3 linked regions of the Homo sapiens genome follow. The protein of the gene in region 2 purifies or fractionates together with the protein of the main gene of each other region. This does not show direct contact. Each region holds a gene or a part of one and is shown on either strand. Other genes may lie near its edges. The genes, in order: FCSK, INF2 and AHR.

What was found.
Region 1: the proteins of INF2 (region 2) and FCSK purify together in Homo sapiens (affinity purification with mass spectrometry; one large-scale study listed by BioGRID and IntAct). This does not show direct contact.
Region 3: the proteins of INF2 (region 2) and AHR purify together in Homo sapiens (affinity purification with mass spectrometry; one large-scale study listed by BioGRID and IntAct). This does not show direct contact.

What each region holds. Positions count from the first base shown.
Region 1 is NC_000016.10:70,468,042-70,471,689, reverse strand, and holds part of FCSK (L-fucose kinase), read right to left. Parts: intron 2,842-3,648; coding exon 2,722-2,841; intron 2,539-2,721; coding exon 2,367-2,538; intron 1,377-2,366; coding exon 1,264-1,376; intron 720-1,263; coding exon 618-719; intron 509-617; coding exon 338-508; intron 1-337.
Region 2 is NC_000014.9:104,699,604-104,703,251, reverse strand, and holds part of INF2 (inverted formin-2), read right to left. Parts: intron 1,896-3,648; 5' UTR 1,887-1,895; coding exon 1,496-1,886; intron 148-1,495; coding exon 32-147; intron 1-31.
Region 3 is NC_000007.14:17,329,505-17,333,152, reverse strand, and holds part of AHR (aryl hydrocarbon receptor), read right to left. Parts: intron 3,202-3,648; coding exon 3,078-3,201; intron 2,398-3,077; coding exon 2,267-2,397; intron 1-2,266. UniProt on the Homo sapiens protein: Ligand-activated transcription factor that enables cells to adapt to changing conditions by sensing compounds from the environment, diet, microbiome and cellular metabolism, and which plays important roles in development, immunity and cancer.

The sequences.
Region 1 (3,648 bases), on a different chromosome or scaffold from region 2:
GAGGCAGAGATTGCAGTGAGCTGAGATTGGGCCACTGCACTCCAGCCTTGGTGATAGAGCAAGACTCTATCTCCAGAAAAAAAACAAAATCCCCACCCAGCCCACCTGGCAGAGCAGATGCAAGGAGGGAGGTAAAGGCCTGTGGAGACTCTGCTGGTCTCACAGCCTATCTTCACCCTATCTCCTCCCTCATTCTCTCCTCCCTACATCCGACCCTCCTCACAGCCTGTCCCACGGGCCAGTGCTCAGAGAACCCCGCAGTGGGGTGGGGGCCAGGACTCCTTGGGCTCCCCAAAGCCTGAAGATGGGGGTGAGGGAATGCAGGGTGACTGCCTACCTCCCAGCTGTCCAGACGGCCAACGAGGGTGAAGGCGTGGCCCGGGGAGCCGTGTAGCCGCGTGTGGTGTCCCTGCAGGACAAGGTCACGCAGCTCCCGGCCATGCAGGGCCTTGGAGTGGGCTGTATCCAGGCCAGTCACCAAGCAGCCAGCGCCTATGTGAATGGGGCCCTGGTGGGGGACAGGGCAGGCATCCTGGGTGGGCAGGCACCCAACACCCCCCAACACATGCGGGATGCCAGCACCCTCGCCCCAATCTGCCCACACGCTCAGGCCTCACCTGCAGGTGGCAGTGCTGCAGGACGCTCCCAGGACCCAGCTGGACAGGGCCCTCCAGCAGGCAGCTGACCACAGAGCTCCCGGCCGCCAGAAGCTGCTGCTCCTGTGCAGCCAGGTAGGAGGAGCATGAGGGGGGTCGAGGCCCAGGGCTGCCCCAGCTCTCCTCCCAAGCCAAGCATCCAGGGGCAAAGCGTCCAGGCCTACTGCTCCCCTGCCCTGCAGCACCCTAGACTCCTCTCTGGACCTGCCTTGGCCCCAGCCTGAGACCTATTTCCATCCCACCTGTCCAACTACGCCCAACCTTGCCACCCTGGGGGCCACCTCTGAACCCTACCTGTCCCCTTCCTCAGCAGCACGGCACTGACCCAGGCCCACCACTGTCACCCCAGGCAGACCCCAAATAAAGGTCTCCTTTAGCTTCTCAATCAGGCAAGCTCAATGCAGAATCCTGAGTTGGCCACTTACTGGCTCTGTGGCCTTAGGCAAGTTACTTAGCCTCTCTGAGCCTCCAGCACTTCATGTGTAAACCAGGGTAACACCTGCACTCGGGTCATCTGTTCCAAGTGCCGGCTATTTTCTTCCCGGGAATCCACATCCCACCTGACCCCAGACAACCAGCAGGCACCGGAGGGGCAGGGAGGTCTCACCTCCACCTGGGAGTGCACAATCTGGGCCCCAGGAGCCCCGGGGAGTGTGAGGCTGAGCAGGAACTCACTGGCTGAGGAGGTCATGTAGCTGTAGCTGCCGCTGGAGACATAGGCTGTAAAGACATAAGTACTGAACCCAACCCCATGCCTGCTGCGACTCAGGGGCCAGGCTGCCTCCCAGCAGCAGAGACACATGGGGGCAGGTGTGGCCATGAGCCTGTTAGGGGAAGCTGAGTCAGGAACCTGCCCAAAGCCACACAACACAGCTAGAAAGTAGACAGGTTGGCCGGGCACAGTGGCTCACGCCTGTAATCCCAGCACTTTGGGAGGCCGAGGCAGGCAGATCACGAGGTCAGGAGTTCGAGACCAGCCTGACCAACATGGTGAAATCCCATCTTTACTAAAAATACAAAAATTAGCCAGGCATGGTGCCACGCACCTGTAATCCCAGCTACTCAGGCAGCTGAGGCAGGAGAATCGCTTGAACCTGAGACGCAGAGGTTGCAGTGAGCCGAAATTACGCCACTGCACTCCAGCCTGGGCAACAGAGCCATACTCTGTCTCAAAAAAAAAAAAAGAAAGCAGACAGGTTAGGGCCGGGCATGGTGGCTCATGCCTGTAAGCCCAGCACTTCGGGAGGCCAAGGCAGGCGGGTCACCTGAGGCCAGGAGTTCAAGACCAGCCTGACCAACTAAAAATAGAAAAATTAGCCAAGTGTGATGATGCATGGCTATTATCCCAGGTACGCAGGAGGCTGAGGCAGGAGAATTGCTTGAACCCAGGAGGCGGAGGTTGCAGTGAGCTGAGATCGCACCACCTCACTCTAGCCGGGGCGACAAAGAGAGAGTCCGTCTCAAAAAACAAAACAAACAAACAAAAAAAAACAGAAACAAAAGTGGACAGGCTGGGAGAGCCCAGGAATGAGACAAAAGGAAGACAAGAAGGGGAAGGAGGTAGCTCAGTGGGGGGCTCTGGCACAGGACAGGAGAACTGCCCAGTCCCTGTGCTGGGCTGCCTGGCCCAGCATGCAGTGAGCAGCTCCATTCTTGGGGTCCTCACTCCCATGGTCTCCCCACCCCAGGGAGCTGAGAGGCAGTACCCACCCATGGTAAGGGGCTGATCGCGAAGCTCCCTCCACAGCTGGGCCCGGGCGCTCTGCAGATAACCCGCTACATCTGCATCGCCTTGCCCCAACTCTGGGGGCCTCCCCACCAGGAAGTCCTCCCTGGTCACGTTCTCAGCCATGCAGTGGAGAATGTCAAAAAACAGAGACAGCTAGGGGAAGGGGAAGAAGCACAGCTATTGGCATGGCAGGGGTTCAGCCCCCAAGTTCTGAGGCTGAACCAGGGCAGTCCCGTCTGCGGAGACTCTGCCCCAGAGAGGGGAAGTGGCTGGCCTGAGGTCACACAGTGCCTCGCCCCCAAGCCAGGCCCCACCTAGCTGCCCTCCCCCAGTCACCTGGACAGGCCGGGCTCCGGAGTCCAAGCCTAGGTAGGTGCAGGCATCCAGGGGCGGGCTCACGTGGGTGGCTAGGAGGCGCTCGGCAGTCTCCACAGAGAAGAAGACAACCCCAGAGACCTGGAAGGGACCCCAAAAGGATCAGAGATGGAGGGCCCTGGACCAGGCCCTGGTACAAGTCAGGGAGGGCACATGCAGATGGGCCACATGAAGCTGAGTGCCATACCAGGCAGGGAGTGTCACCTTCTGACCACTCCAGCAGCCAGACTCCAGGCTTACTTGGGGTAGCTCCCACCAAGACACCTTCTGGGACACCCTCAACTGTCAGGCCTTCTCCTGAACCCAGTTCTCCACCCTCGCCATGGTCCACTCCCAGATCTCCATGCCTCTCCAATCCTTGCCCCTCATGATGGAAGCATTCCCGGAGTCTGGCTCTAGGCCTCCTCCCAACCGCACTCCCTAACTTGCTCACATTCTGGTTCTAGGCTTTCTTTTTTCGTTTGAGTTTTTGAGGTTTGCTTTGTTTTGTTTTACAGCGGGCAGGGGATTGATTCAGAGTCTCGCTCTGTCACCCTGGCTGAAGTGCAGTGGCACGATCTCTGCTCACCGCAACCTCCGCCTCCTGGGTTCAAGCGATTCTCGAGCCTCTACCTCTCAAGTAGTTGGGATTACAGGCACACACCACCATGCTCAGCTAATTGTTGTATTTAGTAGAGACAGGGTTTCACCACGTTGCCCAGACTGGTCTCGAACTCCTGACCTCAACTGATCCACCCGCCTCAGCCTCCTAAAGTGCTGGGATTACAGGCGTTAGCCACCGTGCCCGCCTGGTTCTAGGCTTTCTGGCTCAGGACAAGACCCTGAATTCCAAGGCTACCCTGTCCTCAGATTCTAGCTCTAGCTTGTCCTGGAGGCTTCTAGAAGGAA
Region 2 (3,648 bases):
CATGTGCCCAGGCCCAGGCCCTGCCGCCCACCTTGTAGTGGTCCAGGGCGTCCAGGGTCAGCACGTGGCCCTCGGGAGAGTAGATGCACAGGGCAGCCAGTAGCTCAAACACCTGCTTCTTCACCATCACGTTGGATGTGTCCAGGGCTGCCAGGGTGGAGTGGGCAGGCTCAGCAGGGCCAATGCACCCCTTCCCATGCCTGTGCAGCTGGGCTCAGGGCTGGGGCTCTGGGCCTGGCAGGCAGACGCCAGGGGGTGCCGGGCACTTGTCTGTGGCCCACAGCAGTGGGCTGGGACCCAACGAGGTGCCCCACTCCTCGGTGTCCTGGCCCTGCTCCTGGACCACAGGGCCAGACCCTGCAGGGAAGGGCTTGGAGGCAGCTGCCCCATCCTGTCACTGGCTCTGGGCCCAGCTTTTCTCCCAATGCAGCACTTACTGTGTTTATGGCAGACACAACCTCATTCCTATGAACCCCTGCCTCCCACCCCATCTGGAGCTGTGAAAGTTCTGGGGGTGTCTCTCATCTGACCCTGCTGAGAACAATTCACAAAAGACTCCATAGAGGGGCCCTGCCAGGCCCAGGCTGGGGAGACGGGCTGAGAATGGCTGGCCCCTACACCTGCCTCTGTCCCCTGGGTCCGACAGAAACGAGGCGCCTCTGGCTTGCTTGCCTGCACAGGTAACTGCCGCCCCCATGGGCCCAGCCCCGCCCATCACTGCCCACCCTAGCTCGTCCCCAAGCATCGGTAGGACCTGGCAGCAGCCATGGAGTGGCACAGCAAGGGTTTCTCTCAAGGGACCGGGACTAACTTTGGGCACAGCCTGGGGAGACTTCCTGGAGGACAGGAAAGTGAGCTGGGGCTTAAAGGCTTAGCGGCGCAGGACCTTGGAGGACGCAAAGGCAGAAAACACGAGCAGAGGCAGAGACCAAGGGCCTGCCTGCCTGCCGGGAACGAGTCCCCTGGGTGCTGGAGTAGGGGACAGGGCGGGGAGGGAGGCGCTAGGGAAGGCGCTGGGAGGTGGAGGGTGACACCATCAGTAGGTGTGGGCCAGACCTCAAGGGCTCTGTCTGGGCTGAGGCTGAAGGGCTTGGAGCTAGGCAGGTGTATGTAGGGAGCCACTCGGGTGGATTCGCATCTCTGACTCAGTGACTCCTGCCGCCGAGGTGTGGACGAGGGCAGAGAGCCCAGAGGGTGGGAGCCAGCACAGGACGGGGAGGAAGGGTGGGGCAGAGCCACACAACAGAGAGGGGCACAGGGGGACCGCTGGTGCAGCAGTGCGGGGACTGGGGTGACCTGGAAGCCTCAGACTCGGAGTGAATGTGGATGTTTTTCCTGAGCCCAGGAAGCCAGTCCTCCTCCAGGAAGCCCTCCTTGCCTGCCTGGCTGCGCTTCCTCCTGGTGGTTCCCCAGGCCTCCCGGGGCCTTTTGGGCCTGAAGCCTCATACCAGGTCCCCAGCGTCCGCCTGGGCGGCCCTCCCACACTGCGGCTCACCCTGGGAGAGCTGGCGCACGTAGCCCTGGTTGCTGAGGATGTACTCGATGCCCTGCCGCGAGTTCATGACGGCGCGCACGCAGCTGACGCAGGTGAGCTGCAGCAGGGCGTCGGAGATACGTGCAACGCCGCGGCCCGACAGCCGCGCCAGCGCCTCCAGCAGCAGGTCCAGGCCGCTCTGCTCCAGGAACTGCACCATCCAGCCGCCGTCGCTGCCCTCCAGGCGCTTGCGCAGGCCGGAGTAGTTGACCACAGAGGGCATCTGGAGCAGCCGGATGCACAGCTCGGGGTCCGCGCTCTCCAGGTTGGCCTCCGTGGGGTCCGAATCCTGTGGCCCCAGCTTCTCCTTCAGCGCTGCCCACTTGCGCTGTGCGCCCTCCTTCACCGACATCTTGCCGAGCTGCAGGCAGAGGGCAGGGAGCCGTCAGCGGGGAGGGGATGGGGGCTGTCCTCCTGGCCACCAGCGCAGGCGGGGCCACTTCCCTCGGTCTCAGTTTCTCTGCTGCAATTCCTGCTCACGTGCCATGCTGAGGGTTAGGGGTAGCACTGTGTCCCCCACTATATCTTAGGCTTCCCTGTACCCATCCCTGACCGAATTTCAGCAACCGAGGCGGCAGGCAGGAAGGGCCCTACTGCGCGCATGAGGACCCCGAGGCTCAGGGCTGGGAGGGGAGGAGCCGGCTCAGAAACCTGCAGCACGAGGCCAGCACGGCCCCTGCAGAGTGACGGGACCGGATGAGCTTGGGGAGGACTCGGGGGAGCGGGAGGCTCCCCTGGCTGGAACATTACCCACGGTAATGATGCGACAAAACGGCGCATCTGAGGCTGCCTTATCTCACCCCAGGGCACTTCCCCCGCCCCAGTGGACAATATGGACAGGGAGATTCCAAACCTCAGGCATGCCTGGGGTGCCCACAGCGTCAGCAGCGTGGCTGGGGAGGAGGGGCGACTCCCAGGTCTCCCCTGGGCCTCAGTCTGCCCGTCTGCATGTGGGTAGGGGGCCCACACCAACAGGAAGACGGAAACCCTTGGCACTCAGGGTTTTACCAGGATTCAGTCGCAACAGGTCTGACTCCAGCCCTGGGAACACCCGGGTAGGTAACAGGCCCAGCCCAGAAGAGCCCCAACACGTGCCTTTCCCCAAAACAGAACAGCAGGACAGGCGGGTTGCACCTCTGACATCAGCTCCACGCCACCACATCCCCCCAGCCGCTGTCCCCAACCACAGACCCTGGGAACTGGCCTCGAAGGTCAGGGGCATCCCAGGCCCTCCTGCAACCATGTATGGCTTAGATCTTATATTTAGCGTCTGAGAACAGCAGCGTGGAGCCTCGGGGAGGGAGCTAGGGGGCCGGGCCTGGCAGGGACACGCTCTGAGCCTCCACCCCGGCCCAGCACTCTCCACCCTGGCCCTCGGCTTCCCACCACCTCCAAGGCAGGCACTTTATACCTCCCACAACAGGTGGGGAACTGGAGGCGGCTGGGTCCTAGAGAAGCTGGGTCTGTGCCCACAGTCCCACACCTGGGCACGGCTGGGCTGTGACTGGAGGTCCCACATGGCTTTGCTTCAAGTGCTGCCCAACCCGGTAAGTCAGGGGACCCCAGGCTGAAGGGCATTTGAGGTCACGGGAGCTGAGCGGGGTCGAGCACCCAAGCGCCTGCCTCCCCAGGAGGCTCTATTCCTCCCCTCCTGCCTTGGGAGAGTGTCCTGGAGCACCTGCCCTTGAGGTCTCAGGCCCACTCCCCAGCCTGGTCCACGACCAAGCCTGGTGTTTCCGGCAGTCCAGCCCCTACTCCCCGCACCGCCCCTCAGCCCTCCACCTGTCCAACTGCCCCAGGGGGCCAGTGGGCTCCTTCCAGGAGGCAGCCTGACAGGTGTAAGCCAGGGTTCTGATCTGCATGTCCCCAGCCCGGGCCCTCACCAGCAGACCTTGGCCCAGTCACTCATCCTGCCTGGGCCTCAGTTTCTTCTTCTGCACCTCCAGCACCAGGCTGCCAGGAGCATCCTGAGAGGCTGTCCTTGGGATGCCCCTCCTCCCTGCAGGGGGTCCTGGTCTGGGCACTGTAGAACGGAGAGCCCGGAGCCCCCGGTGCACTGTGGTTTTAAGCCACCCTCCCAGGCCCGGCCCTCTTGGTCACCCAGTGGCCGTCCA
Region 3 (3,648 bases), on a different chromosome or scaffold from region 2:
GAACATCAGAGGGTAGGTTCACAAACCTAGATGGTATAGCTTACTACGCATCTAAGCTATACAGTATAGCCTTTTGTTCCTAGGCTACAAACCTGTACAGCATGCTATCGTACTGAATACTTAAAGCAATTGTAACATGATGGTAAGTATTTGTGTATCTAAACATAGAAAATATACAGTAAAAATACAGTATAAAAGACAAAAAATGGTATACCTGTATAAGAGCACTTATTGTAAACAAGGTAGGCAGGACTGAAAGTTGCTTTGGTTTAGTCAGTGAGTGAGTGGTGAGTGAATGTGAAGGCCTGAGACATTACCGTACACTACTATAGAGTTTATAAACACTATACACTTAGGCTACGCTGAATTTATAAAAAATATTTTCCTTTTGGCCAGGTGCAGTGGCTTATGCCTGTAATCCCAGCACAGTTTACTGTAACATTTTTACTTCATAAACTTTTGCATTTTTAACTTTTGACTCTTCTGTAATAACACTTAAACACAGTGTACAGCCATACAAAAACATTTTCTTTCTTTATATCCTTATTCTATAAGCTTTCTTCTATTTTTTAATTTTTAATTTTTTTACTTTTTAAACTTTTTTTGTTAAAAACTAAGACACAAACCCACACATTAGCTTAGGTCTGTACAGGGTGAGGATCATTAATGATCCTATCTTCCACCTCTACATCTTGTCCCACTGGAAGGTCTGCGGGGGCAATAACATGCATGGAGCTGTCATCTCCTGTGATAACAATGCCTTCTTTTGGAATATTTCCTGAAGGACCTGCCTGAGCCTGTTTTACAGTTAACCTTATTCTAAAATAATGATTAAAATAAAATAATTAAAAGTATAATACATTTAAAAATAAAGTAAAATAATGATTAATAGTAAATACATAGTGATTTATTATTGTTTTATTTTCAAGTATTATGTATCATATATAATTGTATGTGCTATACTTTTTATATGACTGGCAACACAGGTTTGCTTCCATCAGCATCACCATCAACATGTGAGCAATGCTATGACATCATTAAGTGATAGGGATTTTTCGGCTCCATTATGATCTCATGGGACTACCATCATATACATGGTCTGTTATTGACCAAAGCATCATTATGCAGGACATGACTCTACATACTAATTGTTCATGAGCAATAACACTGGGAAAACTGTCTCAAAGCATAATTCTAATTCTGGGTCAGCAAAATCCTCTTCAGAAATAAACACATAAACAAAAATCATTGCTTGGTAATGTTAATTTAAGATTTGATTATCTGTTTCAAATTCCTTGTTATTCACAAAAAGAATATACAATATACTTTGTATTTTCTTCTCCTGTACTTGGTAACATGAGCTAAGGATACAATGAGATAACAGACAAGTCCACTCTGAGGAATCCTAAGCTGTTCCCTACAGTCAACTCCTATGCAGGTGTTCAGACTTTGTAACAAGAAAACAGCATCTCCTATCAAATGATGATTCCACAATCATGAATATACAATCGTTTTTCTATGTGGCAGTTATTTGAGACATATGGAAAGGCCATAATTTCTCTGTCTAGCAGGCATTCAATCCCAAGATGGTAAGCATCCTCCTATTAAAAAAGGGCTACATAATTCTCTCATACCTTAAAAATCCTAAAATAGTCAAAATACAAGGCTTCGTGTTATTTCACTCAATTTTTGTTACTATATCCTAAAGAACAGTTTTCTGAGTTATAGAAGATAGTCAAAATCAGAAATAATTACTTTAAAATGTTACTTTCCTTTATCAAATTATTTGGTAGCAGATTTTTAAAGCTGAAATCAAAGATAACCAAAGAAAATTGGCTTGTTTTTTCTATAACTTAATGTTAAACTAAATTTGGGCTGAAGATGCCTCTGCTCCTTAAGTCCTTACCAAGGAATTGCAACTTCATTTACTATATAAGCTAACGGAAAGCCTAACAGTAGAATTAAACTTTTGTAACCAAATAGCTGAGTCTCAGTCAGTCACAGGTGGCCAACTAATCAGATCATCTTCAAATAAGGCAAATCCCAAGCTGTAATCAATCAAGCCATTTCTGTACCTCACTTGCATTTTCTGTTCATAAATGCTCCAGCCCATGTTTTTAAGTGAGCTCTCTGAAGCTCTCTGGTTCTGAGGGTTGCCTGATTTGGGAATAGTTCTCTGCTGAATTATATTTTGCTAAATTAAATTTGCCTCAAGCTTTTATTGTAACAATAGTAAAAGCCAGTATCATAAAATTTTGTACCTTACCAGAAAACCAGATGAATTATCCAGCAGACACCTTAGACGACATATGAAGCACCTCTCCATTAAAGGAGAGTTTTCTGGAGGAATCTGGTCTGGGTTATAACAGACTACTGTCTGGGGGAGACCAGTGGCTTCTGTAGAAATAAAGGCAAAACAAAATTTACTTTCCATTTTGCTGTAAAATTAAGCACTTGAATAGGTAAAATTTGTATTAGTTTCTAAACTGGAGTCTGTGTTCTGAATACAAAAAAATCATTTTCAAAAGAGCTAATGACAAGAAACTAAAAGTTTATTAAATATCACTTTTATCAGATAGAACTTGCATAATTTTTTAAATTTTTATTGAGCTATCACTGTCAACAATTTTCATATTTTCTAATGCATTTTTGTTTTCTTAACACTTTAACAAATTTCCAAAAACATTTTTTGCATTGAGAAAAGCATTTTTATACTTGCATATGCTAGCTTACTTTTTTCTTTGGTGCATTTTAAACACAATAATTTACATGCACTCAGGTATCAACCTTGTACCTTCCTTCCATCTTTCATGAAGGTACTACTTATTTTTATAAAATACATTACTGACTATGGCAATACTCTGTTGCCTGAAACTCATTAAATGGCTCTCATTTGCCAAAATATTCCTTAGCTCATCAGGCTCTTTGTGACCTAGCTGTGGCCTATGATTGCAGACTTTACATCTTTCCACTACTTCCCTATCATGGAGTTCTATGACCCTACAGGTTCCCAGCCTCCTTTCACAGACTCATATTTAAAAACTACCAACACTATTTTTTGTACCATCAATTCTTACCTTCAATTCCTTGTCCAGACTCTGTACACTGAGAAGGATTTAATGCCCAGTGTAGCTGACGCTGAAATTCAGCTCGGTCTTCGGTATGGATAAGTTCATATACACTCTGATGTATGACATCAGACTAAAGAAAAAAGATACAAGGAATACAACAAAAGGACTGATTAAAAAATATGGCTAAATTAATTTTAAAGCCTATTTAGATTAGTGGGTGCTTGCTAGTGGTGATGAATACGAATTGAATGATTCCTAAAATTCCCTAGTCACCTAAGATAGAACCTAAGGTAGAAAAAGCTAAAGAGACTGGCACTACAACAGATAAGCCAAAAGTTACTTGTCATCAGTTCCCAACATGAATGCTCTTGCTCAAATAAGTCACATCCCCATTCCTTAAATGCAACATATTAAAATCTGTTTATGTTCCATATTCATTTGTTAGTTTTTAGATTCTTATCTCTTCCATGCAGCTTTTCCTAACCACCCCAGGCCTCTTTGACTTCTCTAAGCTTAATGGTATTCTTTATGTATTTCCTTCACTGTTCTCTAAAATTTTCTTCATATAAAATTTTCA